Regions from separate parts of the Homo sapiens genome. Here region 2 is linked to region 1. Evidence: fine-mapped QTL for protein levels in blood plasma. Region 1 holds a variant in brackets. A gene starts in the other region. All regions are shown on their forward strands. Region 1 has its middle 190 kb from the start of MIR4642. Region 2 holds the start of CD1C (CD1c molecule).

What was found. A credible set is the group of variants that fine-mapping cannot tell apart. PIP is the posterior inclusion probability: the model's chance that the variant is causal. The UK Biobank Pharma Proteomics Project read protein levels with antibody pairs (Olink). The fine-mapping took linkage between variants from a reference panel, not from the people measured, so its PIPs are less certain.
Region 2: it holds the start of CD1C, and the variant in region 1 is the best candidate, but not a certain one, in a credible set for the plasma level of the CD1C protein (UK Biobank, PIP 0.70).

What each region holds. Positions count from the first base shown.
Region 1 is chr6:44,616,538-44,628,032 of GRCh38, forward strand. No RefSeq gene overlaps it. Among named protein-coding and RNA genes, the nearest start is that of MIR4642, 190 kb to the left of the region's middle. RefSeq lists enhancers at 4,270-4,854, 7,845-8,352, 8,353-8,861, 10,387-10,894, 10,895-11,402. The variant T/C (reference allele first, on the strand shown) is at 6,732.
Region 2 is chr1:158,289,502-158,300,299 of GRCh38, forward strand. It overlaps CD1C (CD1c molecule), which reads left to right and starts at 422. Exons shown (of 6, transcript NM_001765.3): 1 at 422-624; 2 at 1,633-1,899; 3 at 2,583-2,864; 4 at 3,095-3,373; 5 at 3,711-3,801; 6 at 3,954-5,273. The coding sequence starts at 564. The coding sequence ends at 3,975. It also overlaps a transcript of CD1B not described here.

The DNA.
Region 1 (11,495 bases):
TGGCCTCAAGCAATCCTCCCACTTCAGCCACCCGACTAGATGGGAAAGAGGTGTGCACCATTTTGCCTGGCTAATATATTTTATTTTACATTTTTAGAGACCAGGTCTCGCTATGTTGCCCAGGCTCCCGGCCTCAAATGATCCTCCCCACTCAGCCTCCTGGGTAGACGGGACTATAGGCTCAAACCACCACACCTAAGAGATTGGTAAACTTTCTAAAGGGGACAAGAAGAGCCGTCATCTAGGGTTGGAGTACTTAGATCTGAGAGACTGTGACTAAAGGCAATAGCAATGAGAGAAATGGAGCTCTTTCCTGATGGTGCCAAAGTTGGCTCATTTCATTTGCTACTTTATTTGCTATGTATTTCCCTCCTTATGGAGAACTGTTGGTGCAGCTGCAGTGCCCTACAAACAGGTGCCTTGTTCTAGAGAAAGGCCCCTCCACCATGTGAGGATGCAGTGAGAAGGTGCTGTCTATGAGAAAATGGGCCCTCACCAGACACTGGATCAGCCAGCGCCTTGATCTTGGACTTCTCAGACTCCAGAACGATGAGAAATTTCTGTTGTTTATGAGTTAAAACAATAAGAATGGAAAAGACTCTAGAAGCTGTAGAATAAACCCCTTTATTTTACCAGTGAGGAAATTAGGATTCTCAGAGTAGAGTTACTTTTCTTAACTCTGCTCATTCAGTGTCTTAGGAATTTGATTTCCAGAGCAGACCTATCCCCTAGGAAGAAAGGGCCAAGCCAGCTACCCTGCCATACAGGGCACCTTGGCATTCACTTTTGTGCCTCCCATCCCGACCTGATTCCCAGGGCCCCTGCGCCTTTGGTGCACTGACAGAATCAAAGTGTGAGCCTGACTGCACCGTGAACTCGTGGGCTTCCCTAGGAAGCAGTGTCCTCGTTTCTCCTCACTGAAGCAGGAATGGGTCACACGCCTTCATCCATCTCTAAGCTCTCCATCCACTTGGCTCTGTTATGTCTGATCTTCCAGCCTCTCTGTTTCATTTCCCTTGACTGTCTGGTGTGTTCCTACAGGATGCTGAAGTGGGAGAGACAAGCACAGGTGATGTCCAGGCCAGCCTAGGGGGACCCTCTGGAGGATGTCTCCCCCAACCCCAGGTCTCATGTTACAGAGACATTGCTTCTGTGGGTCAAGGAGGGCCTGGTGGATGTTCATATCACACACACGTACACACGCGGTCACCCTCGGAAATGTCCCTCCGGCCAGTGCTGGACTCACAGCCCTCCCCTTCCACAGTAGCACCTCCATATAGTCATTTTGTCTGCAGGTTCCTCAAGGACAAGTCACCTCACCAGGATGACTTGTCTGAGAATTAGAAAATCAGAGGTCACTGAACCCTTAGGAGAGGATGTCCTCAGTTACCGGATTTCACTGTTCACTGCTAAAGATTGAATCAATTTGTGGGTAAATTATGACAGCTGTGAGTGAAGACAATGTATGGAAGTTGTTACCTCTGGTGCCTTCTATTTCTGGATCTGTATTGACCCAGTCTGTGGCTCCATCCTGCAGGTATGGGCTTGTTACTTTGCACTTGTACATGATTTAGTCCCTGGGCTAAGTCCCAAGTGTGAGGCCAGGGCAGGTTGTGGTACAGGCCCCACAGGCAGCTCTCATGAATGCAGCCCAGTTCCTGGCACACAGCAAGGGCTCAGTAACTCCAGCTCAGGGGCTTAAGCTTCTTAATGTGAGTGAAAACAGAACGGAAAACGCACCTGAAGCACAACAGGCCCTGTCTTTCACCCACAGTGGGGTAAGGACTTGCTCCTTGAGGACTCAGAGGCATTAACGATAATGAAGGGTTCCAACCCAGCTGAGTTCTCTGGTTTTTGGTTCCTCTGTTTAGAAATGCCATGTTTGTGGCTTCAAATAAATCAAGAGATTTGAACCCAAAAGATGGGCAATTTGGCAGGGTTTCAAACCCACTTAAAACTACAGCTCCAAATTTAGATGTGATCTGGGAACTTGAGTTTCAAGTTCCCCTTGACTTGGGCAAAGCCTGAATTTCAATCTACTGCACATTTTAATTTATCCGTTCTCATCTTTTTAACTTCCCCAAATTTCGCTCTCCCTTTTTGGAACTCATCACTCTGGTTGTGTTTCTCACGTGGCTGTTGCTGTGACTTCTCTTGCGTTGTTTTCTGTTATCATCACACAGACCTTATACTCTGCCTTTCAGTCTTATCTCCTGGGCTGGGCTGGAGACACCTTCTGGGCAGGGGCTGTCCTCAGGCCTCTTTCCTTTCCCCTCCGTGAGACTTGCCCAGGGTCCAATACTCATGGGTCACAGTTAAGGACTGAGGGTTGCTCCGTTGTAAAGCTAGGAACTGGAGGAGGTTATGTTCCAACCAGATTTCCAGAGCCTTGGCTTCTGATTTGGTTAAGTATTCCTTGGAAATAAACAAATAAGCAATGCAAACATCTGAAGAGCAGTGGTTTGAGTTAAGGAGTGTACAAAATTTAAGAAAAGTCTGATGAAGACAAAGCCATGTGCTGGGCAAAATCGAATCAATCCATAATAGCTTTCTGTCACTCCTGCCATGCCAATACTGCCTGAATTGTTTGTCTACAGCTTGTGGGAGGCTAAAAGAGTCAAAGGTTAGAATTTGGCACATGAGATAGAACTAGAGTTCAGATCACATGCACCTTTTCACACCTTCACACTTTTGGAGAAACAGTGTATTTGTTTGGTTGGGCTGCCATAGCAAGGTACCACAAACTGGGTCGCTTCAACAACAGAAGTTTATTCTCTCACAGTTCTGGAGGCCAGATGGCCAAGATCAAGTTGTGGGCAGGGTTGGCTCCTTCTGAGGGCTGTGAGGGAAGCCTGTTCCTCGCTTCTGGTGGCTTGCTACGACCTTTGGTGTCCCTTCGCTTGCGGACCTCTGCCTTCGTCTTCACATGGTCATCTCCCTGTGTGTGTCTGTGTGTCTGTCTGTGTCTAAATTTCCTCTTTTATAAGGACATTGATCATATTGGATTACGGGATCATCATACTCTGTAGTATGGCCTCATCTTAACTGATCACATGTGCGATGACCCTATTTCCAAGTAAGATCATATTCTGGTGGTACTAGGGGTTAGGATTTCAACATTAATTTAGTGGTGGTGGGTGAGCATATTTAACACAGTGCAACAGCCTTCTTATTTGAATTTATTGTTCTCCAAATCAGGGTTTATCCATAGAATTCAGTCTGTGCCATACCTATGGATTGGATAATAAACATCTAGAAGAAGCTAAAGGCAGGAGTCCCTTTTCTCCTTTTCTACCCAGTGATCCATCCATCCATCCATCCGTTATCACACACGTGCACACACACACACACACTTTATATAGGTGAGACTCTAGGGGTTCCTTACTGGAAGCCCCTGTCATCCAGGGACACTACTTGATGTCTTACTTGCATGGATTTGATGAGCTGCCTCAGAGGAAGAGCTATAAGGACTCTGAAGTAAGGCCTGGGTTCAGAATCCAGCCCTGCACTTACTGGCTCTGTGACATCAGTGACACCTTCCTCTTTGAGGCTTGGTTCTTCATTTGCAATATAGCAAATACTAGAGCAGACCCTATAGGTCCCTGAAAAATGGTGGCATTTATTGACGTTATTATTGTTGAGTGAGCCAAGGAGAGAGGGACAGAGTGGAGGCATGGCCTATCTTCCAGCTTCCAGAAGCTCACCACCAGGCACTCCTGGGGGCGCAAGTCCAAAGCTGTCACAGAGACTGCCTCATCTGGACTGTCTCCCCAGTTCCAGAGCTGTGGTTCTTAATCTTTTGGGGAACTGGATCCCTCTGGAAATCTAATACAATCTGTGGACTCCTCCCCAAATAGCACCTGTGCATGGAGTGTCCTCAGAAGCTTGCGTGTGATTGTGGCAGGTTTGCGTCTCCACTTGAGACCACCCACGGAGGCTAAAGTTTCCACTTCAGAGACAACAACCTGAGAAATTCATTTGCTCATCCAGTAAACATTTCTTGTGTGACTGTCACATGCCGGGTGCTTTGTGGGGGACCAGGATGTCACGGAAAAGTCAGATAGGAGACCTTTCCCCAAACTGCTCACAGGCAGCAAAAACCATAATGAAAAGTAGAAATGATTCAATATTATAGCAGACATATGGCTATATTTTTTTTGTCCCAGTTCAGAGGAGGACATTATTTCTACCATGGAGGGTGTGAAATAATCAGGCAGGTTCAGTGGAAGGAAGGATATTTGAGTTGGAAAATAACAGGTGAGTTAAATTTTGTTCTTAAAGGACATATTGGTATTCCCAAGGTACCCATCCCGACAGTTGACACAAGTGCACGAATATCTGTCTGCTGGTGTTTGCCTTCACCTGAATGTAACTTAGCTGCTAGATTCCTAAAACGCTGCACCTCTGATAAGAAGCCAGTTCGTGTTCTTTTCTTCAAATATGGGCTTCCAATTGTATCACTTCTATAACACAAAGCACAGTTCATTCATTTACATGAAACAAGAAGACATTGACATTCTGCCTGTCTTCAGTCCTTACCTTTGTTATGAAGGAATCTTTGGTGTCTCTGACCCTCTAGGGATCCCAGTCCTCCACCCAGCTGTGGAGGATGGAATGGGAGGTGCACATCTGGGAGTAGTTAACCACTATCTTCTACTTTCTTTCTTCCAGGGGAGGTGCTTCTTCACCCCACTCCTCTCTATCCACATCACTAATAGCCAAGAGCTCAGCCTTCCCGGGGTCAGACAACGTTGTGATCTGCTGGATCCTGTTCTGCTTCAGCTGTGTTGAATGCATATCCATTTGGTTCTGGTTCATAATTCTTCACTATCAATTTTTCTGAAAGACTTCAGTTCCTTTTGTGGTTCAGTGAAAAGTTTGGTATTTGGGGTTGGGTACAGATTAGGTTTAGCCTAGGGTTGAGATCTGCTGTGGTTTGGGTTTTGCAGGGTGGTCATTTCGTAAATGCTATCTCAACCCTTCCCAGGTGGAAGGGGCAGGGAAATGTGGCCTGGGAATCCACATCATAAAGAATTTTCAATAAATGATCTGAGAGGAACACAGTGTGTTCTCTCCCTGGCAGCAGCATCAAGCAGTCTCTGGAAGACACACTGAGCATCATTCTACGCTGTATGGTTGTAGGTTCACTGTCAAAATGAGCTTGATCCAGCAAGAATTTAGGAAAGTGACAAGTGGTTCAGGCTTAGCCACAGACTTGCAACGTGACCCTGGGTAAATCAGTTCCCCTCTCTGGGACTCAGTTTCCTTATGTGTAAACAAACAAACAAAGGAAATTGGACGAGAAACTAGGTGATGGTGAAGGTGACTTTCAGAGCTTAAATGTTATGATGCTGTGAACACAACAACTTTATTTTAAATTAACTGTGCCTCTAAGGAAAGGATTCAAAGGCTCTTTCATTCATTGAACTGTATCTCTCCCACGTTCCACTCCCTGGTCATTGCTCAAGAACAAACATGAGAGCATCCAGCCCTCCTGGAGAACGTACATACTTCAATGGAGGCCTTGGCTGCCTGCCTGGGGCTCCCTCAGCAACCAGGCTGTGTAGTAGCATGGTGGGCCCATGGGGTCACAGAACCTTCTCTCCCCTTCCTTCCCTCCTTTTTTCCTTAGAGGGAAGGAAGGGGACAAAAGAGGACAGTATTAGACCATATCCACACTTCTAAGGCTTTAGGCTCCAGAAGGGAATGTACCTCTTTAAGGTGCCTGCAGGCAGGGCCTATCCAGCCAGCAGGGTAAGGCAGAGGCCATCCCAGCCCCTCAGGATCCCCGTGGGGTGTGTCTGCTGAGGTTCTAAGGAACTTAATTAACATGGACTTTCCTCACTTATTCACCGCCTACCCCTATAAGGTGTGCTAGCTAAGTAGTTTTTCCACACACCTGAATTTTACCCTTTAAATAATAAAATAGTTTTAATCATTTGAACAATTTTATTTATTTATTTTTGAGACAAAGTCTCACTCTGTCACCCAGGCTGGAGTGCAGTGTCATGATCTCAACTCACTGCAACCTCTGCCTCCTGGGTTCAAGTGATTGTCATGCCTCAGCCTCCCGAGTAGCTGAGATTTACAGGCATGTGCCACCACGTCAAGCTAATTTTTGTATTTTTAGTATAGTCAGGGTTTCACCATGCTGTCCAGGCCGGTCTTGAACTCCTGACCTCAAGTGATTCGCCTGCTTTGGCCTCCCACAGTGCTGGGATTACACGCATGAGCCACCGCACCTGGCCCATTTTCACCATTTTAGATGGGAATAGATACTTTTTGTTTCTTGCTTCTCAGCCCTCTCAGCTGGGTATCATGAACAGAGTCAAATCTTCATCCTAACGAGTATCAATTGTCCTGCCTCAGGTTTTCATGGGTAAACTGAGGAAAAGCATATCTCCCTCACAAGGTCCGTGTGATTATGTAAACAAAGGGCTAGCCTGGAAAGAAGGACATGCTTAGTTAATAGCGATTATTATTTTAATTGTCAGTTGATTACATGGTGATATATTCAGAGAAGATTGATTTATGAAGAGCAATTTGCCTTTCCAGGAAATGGCCCCTGGACTGTTAGGCATTTCGATTTCTTGGGCATGAATTAAATAGTTTCTCTTCCTCTCCCTTGTCACCAGTTGCATGGCTGGCTTGCACCTGACTTAGTGACCCTCCCTTCCTTTCTCCCTCCCTTCCTCCTTTTTCTTCTTTCTCTCTTCCTCTTTCCTTATTTC[T/C]CTTTTTAAAGTTTATTGGGAACTTTTCTCTATAAAATGCTCATTACAGAAAATTTGAAAAAAAGAAAACAAAAAAACAGAAAGAAAACAAAATCACCTATGACACCTTGAGAAAACTACGTTTTGATATATTTCCATTTTATCTCATTTTTCAGTTTTGAGTGTTGTTTGTTTATTGCACATGTTGAAGTTACACCATAGATATAATTTTGCACCCTGCTTCTTTTTAGTTATAATGATAACATAAGCACTTCCCCATGCTAATTTTCAATTCATCACCAACAACATCTATATTGGCTGCAAATATGGCTGGTCATGGTCCCGTGGTTTAACTTACGCATTTCTTTAAGATTGATATGAAAAGATTGGCATGAATTTCTTTCTAGTTTGTTGTTTCTAAGAGGGTGTGGCAGGGAGACCACTCACCAAGTGTGTTAGAACTGTACGTTCTCAGGAAGAGTTAATCAGTCTCAGAATCTTGTGGGAAGGCTGGAGAGGTTTTCCTCAGGAGCCTTTGGATATGAATTTTTTTGACGCCTCTTATACTTTACTCTCTCAAAGGATCCTTTTACTTGTGTTTTCGGTTCTTGATCGAGGTCTGAATAGTTGAGATTATCAATTCATGGACTTCTTGATAAGTGAGATATGACTGCACTAGTAAAAATGATAAAATCTACTTTTCTACCAGCAAGGTAGAATGGTGTCATTGTTCAGAGCTGCCTGCGTTCAAATCCCAGTTCTCCCTCTTTCTAGTTGGGAGCCATCAGGCAAGTTTCAGTCTCTGTGCCTCAGTCCCCTTGCAAAATGGAATCATCATAGTGTCCACCTCACAAGACCGCTGTGCGTATGAAATGAATGAATGTCTGGAAAACACTTAGGACTGTGTCTGGCCCTTGGTAAGCTCTAGTGAGTATTTGCTATTTTTATGTTCTAATTATGTTATGAGGGCATTTTAAAGTTTCTTTGAAACATTTTTGACCTACTCTTTCAGAATTTTTGTCTTTTACAGAGGCTCAGGAGCAGAAGGAGACGGCTAGGGCTGGAAGGGACAGCAAGGGAGTGGCACAGCTGAGAGCAAGGCTGACACCAGGTGCCCAGGCACCGCCTCCACCCCCAAGGCCAGGGAGAGCCGGCAGGGCCCCCCAGGCACAGCCTAGCTGGGCCAGGAGTGGGACAGGAAATGAGAGAGAAAGTCCAGAGTGGGGGTGGTGTGGAGCTGCAAATGAGAACCTGAAGGAGGAGGGGGCTGGCGGGGGGTGGGGTCACCTCTCTCCCCAGATCCCAGCCTCAGGGGTAGGGCCATGGAGTCCGCAAATAGAACCTTCAGTTCCTGAGGGGAAAAAGAAAGTCTAACTTTAGAATTTACAGTTTTCCTTAACAAGAGGTACAGCGCAGTTGCGTTCTGGTAACGGAAGCAAAATTAAAAATATGAGCAGGAAATAAATTAATTTTAAAATATCTAAAAACATGTATTCTGTGGTTCCATCCACCTGGCCAGCATTGACTGGCTTGTTTTTCCCTGGGAGGGACTGATTAATAGGACAGAAATGAGGAGGTGTGAATTTATTTTGGACCTGGGTGGGGAGCCAAGAGAGGTTGGCATCAGCCCACTTAGGCTAAATCTGCATTTTAAAGTCCACAAGGGTGACCACCTACTGGATGCCCTGGAGGGTGGGGAGTTGGGAAGGGAGGTATTGCAGGCTGAGCTCCTTCTCAGCAAGCTTCTAAAAGCAGTTTATTTTCCCCCCTTTTGAAAGTATAGTCATGCAGGCCCAGAGGCAGCCCTATGACCAGGGGACTCTCTGGGCCTTTGTCGGGAGAAGCCAACGACACAGAGCAGGCCTGGGACAGTGAATGCAATGCGGGTTTTTGAGCCCAAAGTGTTCCCTGGGAAGAGGTAAGAGGACAGAGCCCAGCACTCAGAGAAATAAAATCCCTCTGGGCTGTTTTGTGCACCAAGCATGGAGAATCATTTAGCAGGATGAAAGGTGGTTGAGAAGCAATAAATAATCTTCAAATGGGGGAGAGGCCACTGTCTGGGAGGTAGAGAGAAGGCTGCAACGCAGAGCATTTTATCTGAGTTTAAAACGCAAGAGTGAGGCCGATTTCACTGTAGTTCAAGACATGGATAATTAAAAACAAAGACATCTTTAAGACAGATCTAAGGAGGCCTCCCATCCCATGCCCTCACCCTATAAATCCCCCATCTCCGTGCCCTTCCCCCATCTCCTTTTCCCAGAAAAGGCTGGGAACACCCTGAGAAGTAAAATCATCCTAACGAGAGAAGACATGTTCTTGAAGAAATTTTGACTTATGGCTTGCAGCTTTATAAGCATTTCAGTAGAAAGATGTCCCACACTCAGGCACTAAGTCAAGGACGCATAGTTTCAATGCTAGCTTGGTCTTCTGTGTGATTATTTTTACAACATTTGCAATTAAATGCAGATTTTCTGCTGCCAGATTCTGACTGGACAAGGGGCTTCAGTGCTGCTGGGTCCCCCGGCACACAAGCTCAGACACACCAACCTGCACGAGGACACACACTTGGGTGGGAGGAACAGCCCGCCGCTGCACGCACACCAGTGTAAACCACCCAGGACACACACGTGCCTGTGCAAGCTGCCTTTCCCCAAACTTTCTTCATTAGAAACAGATCTGCTCTGCTTCTCTGTTACTTTATTTTGATGATTGAAATTTTCCTCAACCAAAAGTGTAGGCATAATGACCTTTTTCTTAAGACTTCAGAATTGTAGAAGAAAATATGATTATATAAGTTCATATATTTTGGTTTTGAAAGGAACTGATTGCTCTGTGTGTGTGCGTGTGTTTGTGGGTGAGTGAGCGTGCTTGTATGTGTGCATGTGGGTGAGTGTGCATGTGTGTGCTGGTGTGTGCATGTGGGTGTGTGTGCTTGTGTGTGCATGTGTGTGCATGTGGGTGTGTGAGTCTGCTTTGTGTGCATGTGTGTGCATGTGGGTGTGTGAGTGTGCTTGTGTATGCATGTGTGTGCATGAGTGCTCAAGTATGTGCATGTGTATGAGCATGCTAGTATGTGCATGCATGTGCTGTGTGTGTGTCAGTGTGCTTGTGTGTTCATGTGTGTGCATGTGGGTGGGTGTGGGTGTGTGGAGGGTAGGGATTCTGGGAAGGAAATAACAAGGAGGCTCTGATGAGATGAGGAGAAACACAGTGGGTCTGATAGCAGGCACGAGGAAACAGTAGTTGCCACCTTAGAAGAGAAACAATGACAGGAGATGAAGTGTGGTTTGGGGTACTCCAACAATCCCCTGTGAACTCAGGAATTTAGTGGGTTTCCAGAAAGTTCTATATTGCCTTTTCTCCTGGGATGGCCAATGCTGCCCAGCATTGGTCAGGAGCAACTTGCAGGAAGAGAAAAGGTTGATTTTTAGGCCTGCAAATACCCACCTCTGCGTAATTTCGCCTATTGTGAGATTTACGTTGTTATTTGCTTCTTCGGGTTGGTTTAAGAGGCGGTAAGGAAGGCAAAGCTTGCGTGAGGTCAGAGTCCACTCCACCTCACCTCAGCAGGCAAGCAGGGCAGGTAGAGGAACAAAGCAGGCCTTGAGGGAGAGAAAGGCCTGAACTAGAATCCTGCTGACCTCTCTCAGCCTGAGTTTTCTCATCTTTAAATCGGGGCCAATGACCTCCTTGATGTGCAGTCCTTGTGAGGCTGCAAGGAGGCAGTGTGAGCACAGAGGCTGGTACGGGCGGGTGCTCAGGGGAGGAGAGGGCCCGTGCTCTGGCCTCCCACCAAGGCCTCCTGTGTGCTGTTGGAAATGGACTTGGCACAAGCAAGGCTTTGTTTCCTTTTAGAAAGCCACCCCAGTGCCCCACTCCCAGGCTGCCTCTCCGATCCTCCCCTCAGCACGTGGAGCTGGGGCTTGTCACTCAGCCCAGGAGGGACCTAGAGCAGGTCTTCAGTACTGGAAAGAGGAAGAACTCCCCTTGCGGGGAGGCTCCACCCAAGCAGGGCATGAAGCAGGAGGTGGTGGGCCGGGCACAGGAGACAAACCCCGCCTGCTTCCCAGTTTTGCTCCGAGAGTTAGCCTTGGCTAAGTGGAGCTCACCAGCCTCCCACACAGTGAACCCAGAAGTCTTCAGCCCTCAACATCCCCGTGTGTGTGTGTGCACGTGTGTGCGTGCGCATGCGTGCGTGTCCATATGCATGTGTGCACGTGTGTGCCCGTGTGTGCGCATGTGCATGTGTGTATGTGTGCATGTGTGTGCCCGTGTGTGTGGCGTGTGTGTGTGTGTGTGTGTGGTGTACTTCCTGCTTCCTCTAGAGCTCTTTCCTTGTTTCACTCTGACACTGTCTTTGACCGCCCTGAGCCGCTCCCCCTCCCCCTCCCCAGTGGTTCTGATGCTGCCCCTTAGCAGGTAGCTTTTTCAGATTCCTTCACTCTTTTCCTGGGTCTGCCTCTTTGCCTCTTGCCTGATTTCCCCTGGAGCCCCGGGGGATCTACGCTCCTGCAGGGCTGTGCCAGCCCTGTGAGAAGGAAGCCAGAAGTAAGAATCACCACCTAGTGCTAAGGGCAAAACATTGCGCCCAGTAGGTGCTCAGGCCAGGTCTGTGAGGGCGGATTTCAAGGATGAAAGCGGAACCGTGGACATTGAAATGTACATTGTGATGTATTTTCAACTCTTCTTTCTTCAAAGAAAAATAATTGGATGTAAAACGCTCCTCTCGCCCCTCACCCAGACTTCTCCTTTGACGCTGATTTTCCCAGCTCAGAATCAAGTATA
Region 2 (10,798 bases), not on the chromosome of region 1:
GTGAGAATGAGGAAATAAGAAAGATGGGTGAAAAGAGGTGAAATTGGAAAGAGAAAACTTTGAGGACATTCAAAAGGGGGAAAGAAAGAATGGAGTGATGAGAAGAGGGGACACTATGGAGAGTGGAGGCAAAGTTAAGTGGAGAAACTGGAAGAACTGTGATCTATTAAAACAAGCAGGAACTGAAAAAATGACATGGTTTCTCCTTTTTATCTTACAAATGACATGCAAAATCCAGAGGGACAAAATGACCTTTCTTTCAATGCCATACACCACTTTGTCTAAGGCAGTTGAGGAAGGGAAGTAGATATAATGGAGCTTAGTGGCAGAGCAGCTGGAATCCTGAGAGAAGAGAATAACTTTAGTTCAGAGCAGGTGGGGAAATGAGAGATTGAGTAGGAGGACCAAGGTTGAGGGAAGCAGATCTTCTTAGTTGCTGTCAGCGGCTGATGGGGAAGATTGTTGGTAGAAGGAAGTCAGAATATAGGTACAGAGGGATAAGTTTGCTAAGAACAGAGATCAGCAAACAGCTTTTCTGAGAGAAAGAAACATCTGCAAATGACATGCTGTTTCTGCAGTTTCTGCTGCTAGCTCTTCTTCTCCCAGGTGGTGACAATGCAGACGGTAAGAACATCGCTGTCAGCTGCAAGGTTACATGTATCTGGGTAGAGTGTGCTGGGCTTTCCCGAGATGGATCAATAGAGATGCCAGAATGCTTGCCATCTGAGCATACCTGTCTCCAGGTCCAGTTTACTCTTTTGGAGGATGGTGGCAGAGCATGGGCTCTGTGTAAGGAAAATGTTATAGCTAAAGTAGTCATTAATGTTTCTCTGTGGTAACTGGTTCAATTTCCATTTCCTCTCCATTTTCCGTTAAAACAATCAGGGCCCAGGAAAATGATGTGGTTTCTCCTTTTTATGTTACAAATGACACGCAAGGTCCAGAGGGATGAAGCAACCTTTCAATGCCACGCACCACTTTGTCTAAGGCAGTTGAGGAAGGGAAGTAGATAAGATGGAGCTTAGTGGGAGAGCAGCTAAAATCCTAAGGGAAGAGAGTAACTTTAGTTCAGAGCAGATGGGGAAATGAGAGATTGAGTAGGAGGCCTAAGGTTAAGGGAAGCAGATTGTCTTAGTTGCTGTCAGTGGCTGATGGGGAAGATTGTCTGTTGGTAGAAGGAAGTCAGAATATAGATGTAGAGGGATAAGTTTGCTAAGAACAGAGATCAGCAAATGGCTTTTCTGAGAGAAGGAAACAACTGCAAATGACATGCTGTTTCTGTAGTTTCCGCTGCTAGTTCTTCTCCTCCCCGGTGGTGACAATGCAGATAGTATGAACATCTCTGTCAGCTGCAAGGTTACATGTATCTGGGTTGAGCATGATGGGCTTTCCCAAGATGGATCAATGAAGAAGCCAGAATGGTTGCCATTTGAGCATACCTCTCTCCAGGTCCAGTTTACTCTTTTAGAGGATGGTGGCAGAGCATGGGGCTCTGTGTAAGGAAAATGGTATAGCTAAAGTAGTCATTAATGTTTCTCTGTGGTAACTGGTTCACCTTCCATTTTCTCTCCATTTTCCTTGCCTCTCTTTTTTTTTTTTTCCTTACACTACTTGCCCTTCTTCCACCAAAAGCATCCCAGGAACACGTCTCCTTCCATGTCATCCAGATCTTCTCATTTGTCAACCAATCCTGGGCACGAGGTCAGGGCTCAGGATGGCTGGACGAGTTGCAGACTCATGGCTGGGACAGTGAATCAGGCACAATAATTTTCCTGCATAACTGGTCCAAGGGCAACTTCAGCAATGAAGAGTTGTCAGACCTAGAGTTGTTATTTCGTTTCTACCTCTTTGGATTAACTCGGGAGATTCAAGACCATGCAAGTCAAGATTACTCGAAATGTAAGTTCAATCATCTAAATTATGGGAGTTCTTTAGAATGTTCTATTTCAGGGAAATATTCTCTACTAATTTTTGGGCCATTTCCCATTATCCCATCCCACCATAAAATTCTGCATAGATGAACCTTTTAAGGGATATTCCTGATGTTGACTCCCTCAAATTTCCTAGGCTCTTGCTATTTTTGGAATTTTTTTTCTTGTGCTTTGTTATCTTCCACCTGTGGTCTCCCTCTGTATCCTACAATCCAGAGATACACAGCTGTCCCACTCTGTGCTTGACTCCCTTAAAATAAAATCTATTCCCCCATTCAATTTCTTCAAAGATCTATGTCCACAGTTCAATGACCATTATGACCAATTTCATGCGTCATGGAATGCTATCCTCCTACCTCCCTCACAAAGGCTCCCCCTTCACCCTCTATCCTATATTATGTGGCTCACCTATCATTTTTCCACATCTTCCTTGGCCACTTTTTCTTGTTAATTCAAGGCATTTATCTCTTATTGTCCCCTTCCCTATCCCCAGCAATTTTTCTCTCTTGTTTCTGATCAAATATGTCTTTGGCTCACTCTCACATCCATGTAAAACTTTCTTGCTTCACTTCCTGATACAGCCCTAGGTTTTTATACTGTTGTTTTCACTTTTTTGTTTGAACTCTTTTTCTCATTCCTCCCTTCCTCCAGATCCCTTTGAAGTACAGGTGAAAGCGGGCTGTGAGCTGCATTCTGGAAAGAGCCCAGAAGGCTTCTTTCAGGTAGCTTTCAACGGATTAGATTTACTGAGTTTCCAGAATACAACATGGGTGCCATCTCCAGGCTGTGGAAGTTTGGCCCAAAGTGTCTGTCATCTACTCAATCATCAGTATGAAGGCGTCACAGAAACAGTGTATAATCTCATAAGAAGCACTTGCCCCCGATTTCTCTTGGGTCTCCTGGATGCAGGGAAGATGTATGTACACAGGCAAGGTCAGTAGTTTCAGCCCCTTCCTCTAAGATTTTTCTATTCAAGTACTGCCCCTTCTGTTCCCACCCTTCAAACTCAGGACAAGAAAGAGGACAAGAAGCAGGGGGGTTGCTGGGTAATAGTTTCTTAGAGGCAGGAAAAAGATAACTGTGCATATTCATGTGGATGTGTGTATGTGGATGTAAGTTGTGTGTAAGTTTCTTCATCAGAACACTTTTTCTGCTCTCTGCAGTGAGGCCAGAAGCCTGGCTGTCCAGTCGCCCCAGCCTTGGGTCTGGCCAGCTGTTGCTGGTTTGTCATGCCTCCGGCTTCTACCCAAAGCCTGTTTGGGTGACATGGATGCGGAATGAACAGGAGCAACTGGGCACTAAACATGGTGATATTCTTCCTAATGCTGATGGGACATGGTATCTTCAGGTGATCCTGGAGGTGGCATCTGAGGAGCCTGCTGGCCTGTCTTGTCGAGTGAGACACAGCAGTCTAGGAGGCCAGGACATCATCCTCTACTGGGGTAAGACTGGAGGTTGGAAGTGTAGGTAGGTGGTTCTTGAGCCTAGAGGTTAGGGGAGAGGAAATTTTGAGGATAGCAGACCTAGGTGAGGGATTGTAGGAAGAAATGTATAGGGTAATTTAAAGAATAGTGGAGTAAGACCTAAGGGATACATGGATACTAGAGATTTAAGGGGAAATGAGGAATCCTTCCTTGAGTAAGTTTTGGAATAGAGTGACTGAAATAGGATAACTGATGCAACTCATCCAATGCATATGTTAAGTAAGGAAATCAATAGATGGAATAGAATCAGCAGTGAGTTTAAAATGGCATCCATGTATCTTTCCAATATGTGCAGGACACCACTTTTCCATGAATTGGATTGCCTTGGTAGTGATAGTGCCCTTGGTGATTCTAATAGTCCTTGTGTTATGGTTTAAGAAGCACTGGTGAGTTTTTTGTATTTCCTCCTCTCCTCCCAGTTTCTTATTTCACATTCCATTTTTCACTCTCTTAGCTTTTCTCTATTGACTACTCCACCTTATCCTCAGTTACCACCTCCAACTTATTCAGGGTTTCTCCCATTCCTGTTCCTTCACAGCTCATATCAGGACATCCTGTGAGACTCTTCCCCCTGACTCCCCCATTGTGTTAAGAACCCAGCAACCCAGGAGCCTAGTACAATATAGTGATGCCATCCCGTCGACTCTCCATTTAAATTGTTTCTCTTTCTGCATAATAAACATTTGTTAATAAAAACCAAATTCTAATTTGGAATGTTTTTCTTGGAATCTCCACTTTTTATATAGCACTCAACCTTCAAAGCCCATTTCTGATGTCATTTCCTCCAACGATCTTCCTTGACCCATACTGAACCCAGAGAGCCCCTCAACTGTTATGTGCATGCAACACTTCCTACCCTGTGTTGCAGCTACTTGAGTCTTTCATTTCACATTTTTAAGCTTTTAGGAGGCAAGGATCATGATAAATGTGCCTTTCCTGCATATGATAGGCTCAGTGAAACACAAAACAAAACATCATATCTAAGTTGGATTAACTGTCATGTTGACAATTTTTCTCATTATATTCCTTCCCAATGTTGTTGTAGCATTGGAAATATTCATGCTTCTCTTTTTGTTTAAATGCTTCATACCTAGCAGATAAATTCCACTCTCCTTTAGCTCCCTCATTTTCTCCTTAAACATTTAAGGAAAAGTGCAGCCTTGTGCCTTGATACACTTATTTTCTAAACACAGAGAATTACAAATGCAAATAGACAGAGAGTGTGCAAGTTACATGTGATGATCAGTGGTGCAGATATGTCACAGAATACTTAAGAAAAGGAACAAGAGATTTGGTCCTCAGGGTTGGAGTGGGATCAAGGCAACCGTTGTGCTGTATATGGAAGACAAATTTCCTAAAGGACTGTGTTATCTGAGATAGCCTTGGCTAAACTTTAGTCCCTTTAGGTTTCATTCACTAATTCAACTAATATTTTTTGGGTACTGAGTTGAGACAGGCACATACAGCTTCTAAACTGGTGGTGGATAAAACAAATGAGATTGTGTCCACTCTCCTGAAGTTGCAATGTTTGCTTCCTCAATCTGTCCATGTTTCTTTTCTATTGTTTTCATGTTTTTATTTATTTCAAAAAATTTTAAATAGATTTTATTGATGTATAATTTATAGTAAAATTTGAATCTTTAAGTGTACAGTTCTATTTATTTTGATAATTATATAAGCCCATGTAAACAAAATCACAATCAAGATATTAAATGTCATAACCCCTCATACCTGTTTGTAGTCAAGCACACCAACAACCTGGCATTCTTGCAACTACTGATATACTTTATGTCACTTAAGCTTAAACTTGTATTTTCTATGATTTTATTAAGATGGAAATAAACATATCTACTTGGTATTGCCTTTTATTTTTCTTCAGTTTAGCATATGGTTGTAAGTAATCCATGCTGCTCAGTGTATTAGTAACCATTCCTTTTCATTGCTGAATAGAATTCCATGTATGAATATAACTTTTTTTGGAGGAGGAGGTGGCTTCCCAGATCTGGCAGGGCCTTTGTCTCCTTGTGCCCACTCACCCAGCTTGGGTCCTGCTTCCATTGCTCATTTCCTTGGCACCAGGAGGCCCTAGGTGACTCTCCTGCACCCTTAGTCACCCTGTGACCTGCAGATACAGAGAGATCAATAGAGAGGATTCTAGGACACCCAGGAAACTGGGAAATAAAGCCAAAAATATATAAAATTAAACTTATTTTTGGGAGAAGAGACAAGATGGCTGACTAGATGCAGCCAGGAAGAGCTTCTCCCACCAAGAGACAAGACCATCAAGAAGAGCAGTATACTCTGAGAAGATCATTGGAAAGAAGGCATTGAGAGTGGATGGAGGGAGAATGCAGACCCTGGGCTGAAGGGGGGAAGAAGCTGCGAACCCTACACAGGGTTGCCAAACACTAGGACTTATTCTTGGTCCTCAGTGGCTTCTAGGGAAGGGGTTGGTTAAATAGGCATGAAGTGGCCCACTCTATCCATGAACCTCTGGAATCCTAGCTGCAGGAGACCCCCACGACCCACACAGACATTTGAGTTGGCAGGGAAAGCTACTTGCAGAGTTGGCAGGGACAGGACTCCAGCTTCTATGGAACCCAGAGGGTTTGGTGTGAGAACAGCTACAGTGGAGCATGGTTAGGGATGTCCATTACCCGAGGATTGGCATGCTCCTCTAGGTGGCTTTGACCCCTTTGTTGACTATCAGACCTGGACAGAATAGGGCTACCATGATATTTGGATGGGGCTAGACTGATCTGAGCCCCCCACCCCATGTCTGCTGGCCTCTCCCAGGATCCCTGCCTGTCTGTACCTGCTTGCAGCACAGCCTCAGATGTTCAACTGAGGCAGTTCTCAGAGACCACTGCCATAGGTCTTTCACTGGCTGACCCCACCAAACCACCAAATAGCTTCTGTCACTGGCCTCACATCAGCATGCACCTGCCTTCAGCACCCACAACTGCTTTGCTGGCATACATACACAGACATCACTGCCTTGCTACCACTTCTGTGCACATATGCATGGAGACCTCACCACTGCTGCACTGTCCCCACTAGCCTACATGCGTGCATGTACCCTGCCACACTACCATCCCTGGTGTACATGTGCATGGACCTTCTACCCTGCTGCCCCACCACCACCAGCATGTGAGTGAGTGTGGACCCCACCATGCCACTGCCCCACTGCTGCCAGTACATGCATGTGAGAGCAGACCCCCACCGCCACTGCCCTTATGAAATGCTTTTCTGGGACCCCCCCACCCTGCCCACCATAGGAGTGTTGTTGCTAGTGGACTGGGAGCACCTTGGCCCCCTCCAGTGAAGCAGGTGCTCAGTCTCAAGGGGCCAAAGAACAAGGTTCTGGGCCTGGTCCCAGGCCCTCAGTCTTAGAGCATATAGCCCAGGAGTGCTGAGCTGAGCCATGGCCCCCTGAAATCATCAAGAAATAAAGCTAGCTCACTGACCCAAACCTATACCATAGTCAAAGCCTCAAGGGCATCAAAGAATATAAAAGCAAAAGGCCCCATCAAAAGGACAGCAACTTTAAACGTTTAAGGAACATCAGCCCACATAGATGAGAAAGAACCCGTGGAAGAACTCAGGCAGCTCTAAAAGTCAGAGTGTCTTCTTACTTCCAAATGAACACACTAGCTCCCCAACAATCTTTCCTAACCAGACTAAAATGGCTGAGATAATAGACATAGATTTTAGAATCTGGATGGCAATGAAAATCATGAGATTCAGGAGAAAGTTGAAATGGAATCCAAAGAATTTAAGGAATCCAGTAAAATAATACAATAACTGAAAGACAAAATAGCCATTTTAAGAAAGAACTAAGCTGATTTGACAGAGCTAAAAAATTCACTAAAGAATTTTATAATACAATTGGAAGTATTAAAGGCAGAATAGACCACACTGAGGGAAGAATCTCAGAGCTCAAAGACCAGTTCTTCTAATTAACTCAGTCACACAAAATAAAGAAAAAATAATACAGAAGGATGAACAAAATCTCTGAGAAATATGAGGTTATGTAAAGAGACCAAACCTGTACTCACTGATGTCCCTGAAAGAGAGAGAGAGAGAGTGTGCAAACAATTGAAAACATATATGAGGATATTGTCCATGACAATTTTCTCAACTTCACTATAGAGGTCAACATTCAAATTCAAGAAATTCAGAGAACTCCTGAGAGATACTACACTAGAAAACCATCCTCAAGATACACAATAATAAGATTATCCAAGGTCAATGTGAAAGAAAAAAATACTAAAGGCAACCAGAGAGGAGGAGCAGGTCACCTACAAAGGGACCCCAATCAAGCTAACAGCATACCTTTCAGCAGAAACCTTAGAAGCCAGAAGACATTGAGGGCCTATATTCAGCATTGTTAAAGAAAAGAAATTCTGACCCAAAATTTCATATCCAGCCCAAGTAAGATTTATATGTTAAAGAGAAATTCAGCAAAGCAAATGCTAAGGAAATTTATTACCACCAGACCTGCCTTATAAGAAGTCATTAAGGGAGTGCTAAACATGGAAATAAAAGACTCTTACCAGCCACCACATAAATGCACTTAAGTAAACAGACCAGTGACACTATAAAGGAACTACACAATTAAGTCTACATAACAACCAGCTAACAATAATGACAAAATCAACTTCTCACTTATCAATATTTACCTTGAAGGTAAATGAGCTAAACACCCCAAGACACAGAGTGGCAAGTTGAATAAAGAAACAAGACCCTGGCTCATGCCTGTAATCCTAACACTTTGAGGCTAAGGCAGGCCGATTGCTTGATCCTATGAGTTTGAGACCAACCTAGGCAACATGGAAAAACCCCATTTCTACAAAAAAACCAAGAAAATTAGCTAAGAATGGTGGCACATGCCTGTAGTCCCAGCTACTGAGGAGGCTGAGGTAGGAGGATCACCCAAGCCTGGGGAGGTGGAGGCTGCAGTAAGTTGTGATCATGCCACTGCACTTCGGCCTAAGTAACAGAGTGAGACCCTGTCTCACGTTAAAAAAGACAAAAAAAAAAAAAATAAACAAGACCCACCTGTAAGTTATCTTCAAGAGACCCATCTCACATGCAAGGACACCCATAGGCCAAAACTAAAGGATGGCAAAAAATCTGTCAAGCATACAGGAAAGAAAAAAGAGCAGGGGTTGCTATTTTTATTTCAGACAAAATAAACTTTAAACCAACAACTGTCAAAAAGGACATAGAAAAACATTATTTAATGATAGAGGGTTGAATTTAATAAGAAGACTTAGCTATCCTCAATATATATGCACCCAACACAGGAGCACACAGGTTCATAAAACAAGTACTTAGAGACCCACAAAGAAGCTTATGTTATCATACAATAATGGTGGTAGACTTCAACACCCAACTGACAGCATTAGATAGATCATCAAGAGAGAACACTGATAAAGGTATTTGGAACTTAAACTCGACACTTGACCAAATGGACCTAATAAACATTGACAGAACGCTCCACCCAAAACCAAAAGAATATACATTCTTCCCATGCCTCCAGCTTTGTTCCTTTTGCTTAGGATTGTCTTGGCAATGTGGGCTCTTTTTGATTTCATATGAAAGATCAGGTAGTTTTTCCAATTCTGTGAAGAAAGTCATTGGTAGCTTGATAGGGATGGCATTGAATTTATAAATTACTTTGGGCAGTATGGCCATTTTCACGATATTGATTCTTCCTATCGATGAGCATGGAATGTTCTTCCATTTGTTTGTGTCCTCTTTTATTTCATTGAGCAGTGGTTTGTAGTTCTCCTTGAAGAGGTCCTTCACATCCCTTGTAAGTTGGATTCCTAGGTATTTTATTCTCTTTGAAGCGATTGTGAATGGGAGTTCACTCATGATTTGGCTCTCTGTTTGTCTGTTATTGGTGTGTAGGAAAGCTTGCGATTTTTGCACGTTGATTTTGTATCCTGAGACTTTGCTGAAGTTGCTTATCAGTTTAAAGAGATTTTGGGCTGAGGTGATGGGGTTTTCTAAATATACAATCATGTCATCTGCAAACAGGGACAATTTGACTTCCTCTGTTCCTAATTAAATACCCTTTATTTCTTTCTCTTGCCTGATTGCCCTGGCCAGACTTCCAATACTATGTTGAATAGGAGTGGTGAGAGAGGGCATCCTTGTCTTGTGCCAGTTTTCAAAGGGAATGCTTCCAGTTTTGCCCATTCAGTATGATATTGGCTGTGGGTTTGTCATAAATAGGTCTTAGTATTTTGAGATATGTTCCATCAATATCTAGTGTATTGGGAGTTTTTTAGCATGAACAGCTGTTGAATTTTGTCAAAGGCCTTTTCTGCATCTATTGAGATAATGATGTGGTTTTTTTCTTTAGTTCTGTTTATGTGATGGATTACATTTATTGATTTGCATATGTTGAACCAGCCTTGCATCCCAGGGATGAAGCTGATTTGATCATGGTGGATAAGCTTTTTGATGTGCTGCTGGATTTTGTTTGCCAGTATTTTACTGAGGATTTTGCATCAGTGTTCATCGGGGACATTGGTCTAAAACTCTCAGCATCAGGATTATGCTGGCCTCAAAAAATGAGTAAGGGAGGATTCCCTCTTTTTCTATTGATTGGAATAGTTTCAGAAGGAATGGTACCAGCTCCTCTTTGTACCTTTAGTAGAATTTGTCTGTGAATCCATCTGGTCCTGGACTTTTTTTGGTTGGCAGGCTATTAATTATTGCCTCAATTTCAGAGCCTGTTATTGGTCTATTCAGAGATTCAACTTCTTCCTGGTTTACTCTTGGGAGGGTGTGTGTGTCGAGGAATTTATCCATTTCTTCTAGATTTTCTAGTTTATTTGCACAGAGATGTTTATATTATCCTCTGATGGTAGTTTGTATTTTTGTGGGATCAGTGGTGATATCCCCTTTATCATTTTTTATTGTGTCTATATGATTCTTCTCTCTTTTCTTCTTTATTAGTCTTGCTAGTGGTCTATCAATTTTGCTGATCTTTTCAAAAAGCCAGGTCCTGGATTCATTGATCTTTTGAAGATTTTTTTTGTGTCTTTATCTCATTCAGGTCTGCTCTGATCTTAGTTATTTCTTGTCTTCGGCTAGCTTTTGAATATGTTTGCTCTTGCTTCTCTAGTTCTTTTAATGTGATGTTAGGTGTCAATTTTAGATCTTTCCTGCTTTATCTTGTGGGCATTTAGTGCTATAAATTTCCCTCTACACACTGCTTTACATGTGTCCCAGAGATTCTGGTACATTGTGTCTTTGTTCTCATTGGTTTCCTAGAGCATCTTTATTTCTGCCTTCATTTTGTTATTTACCAAGTAGTCATTCAGGACTACAGTTTCCATGTAGTTGTGTGGTTTTGAGTGAGTT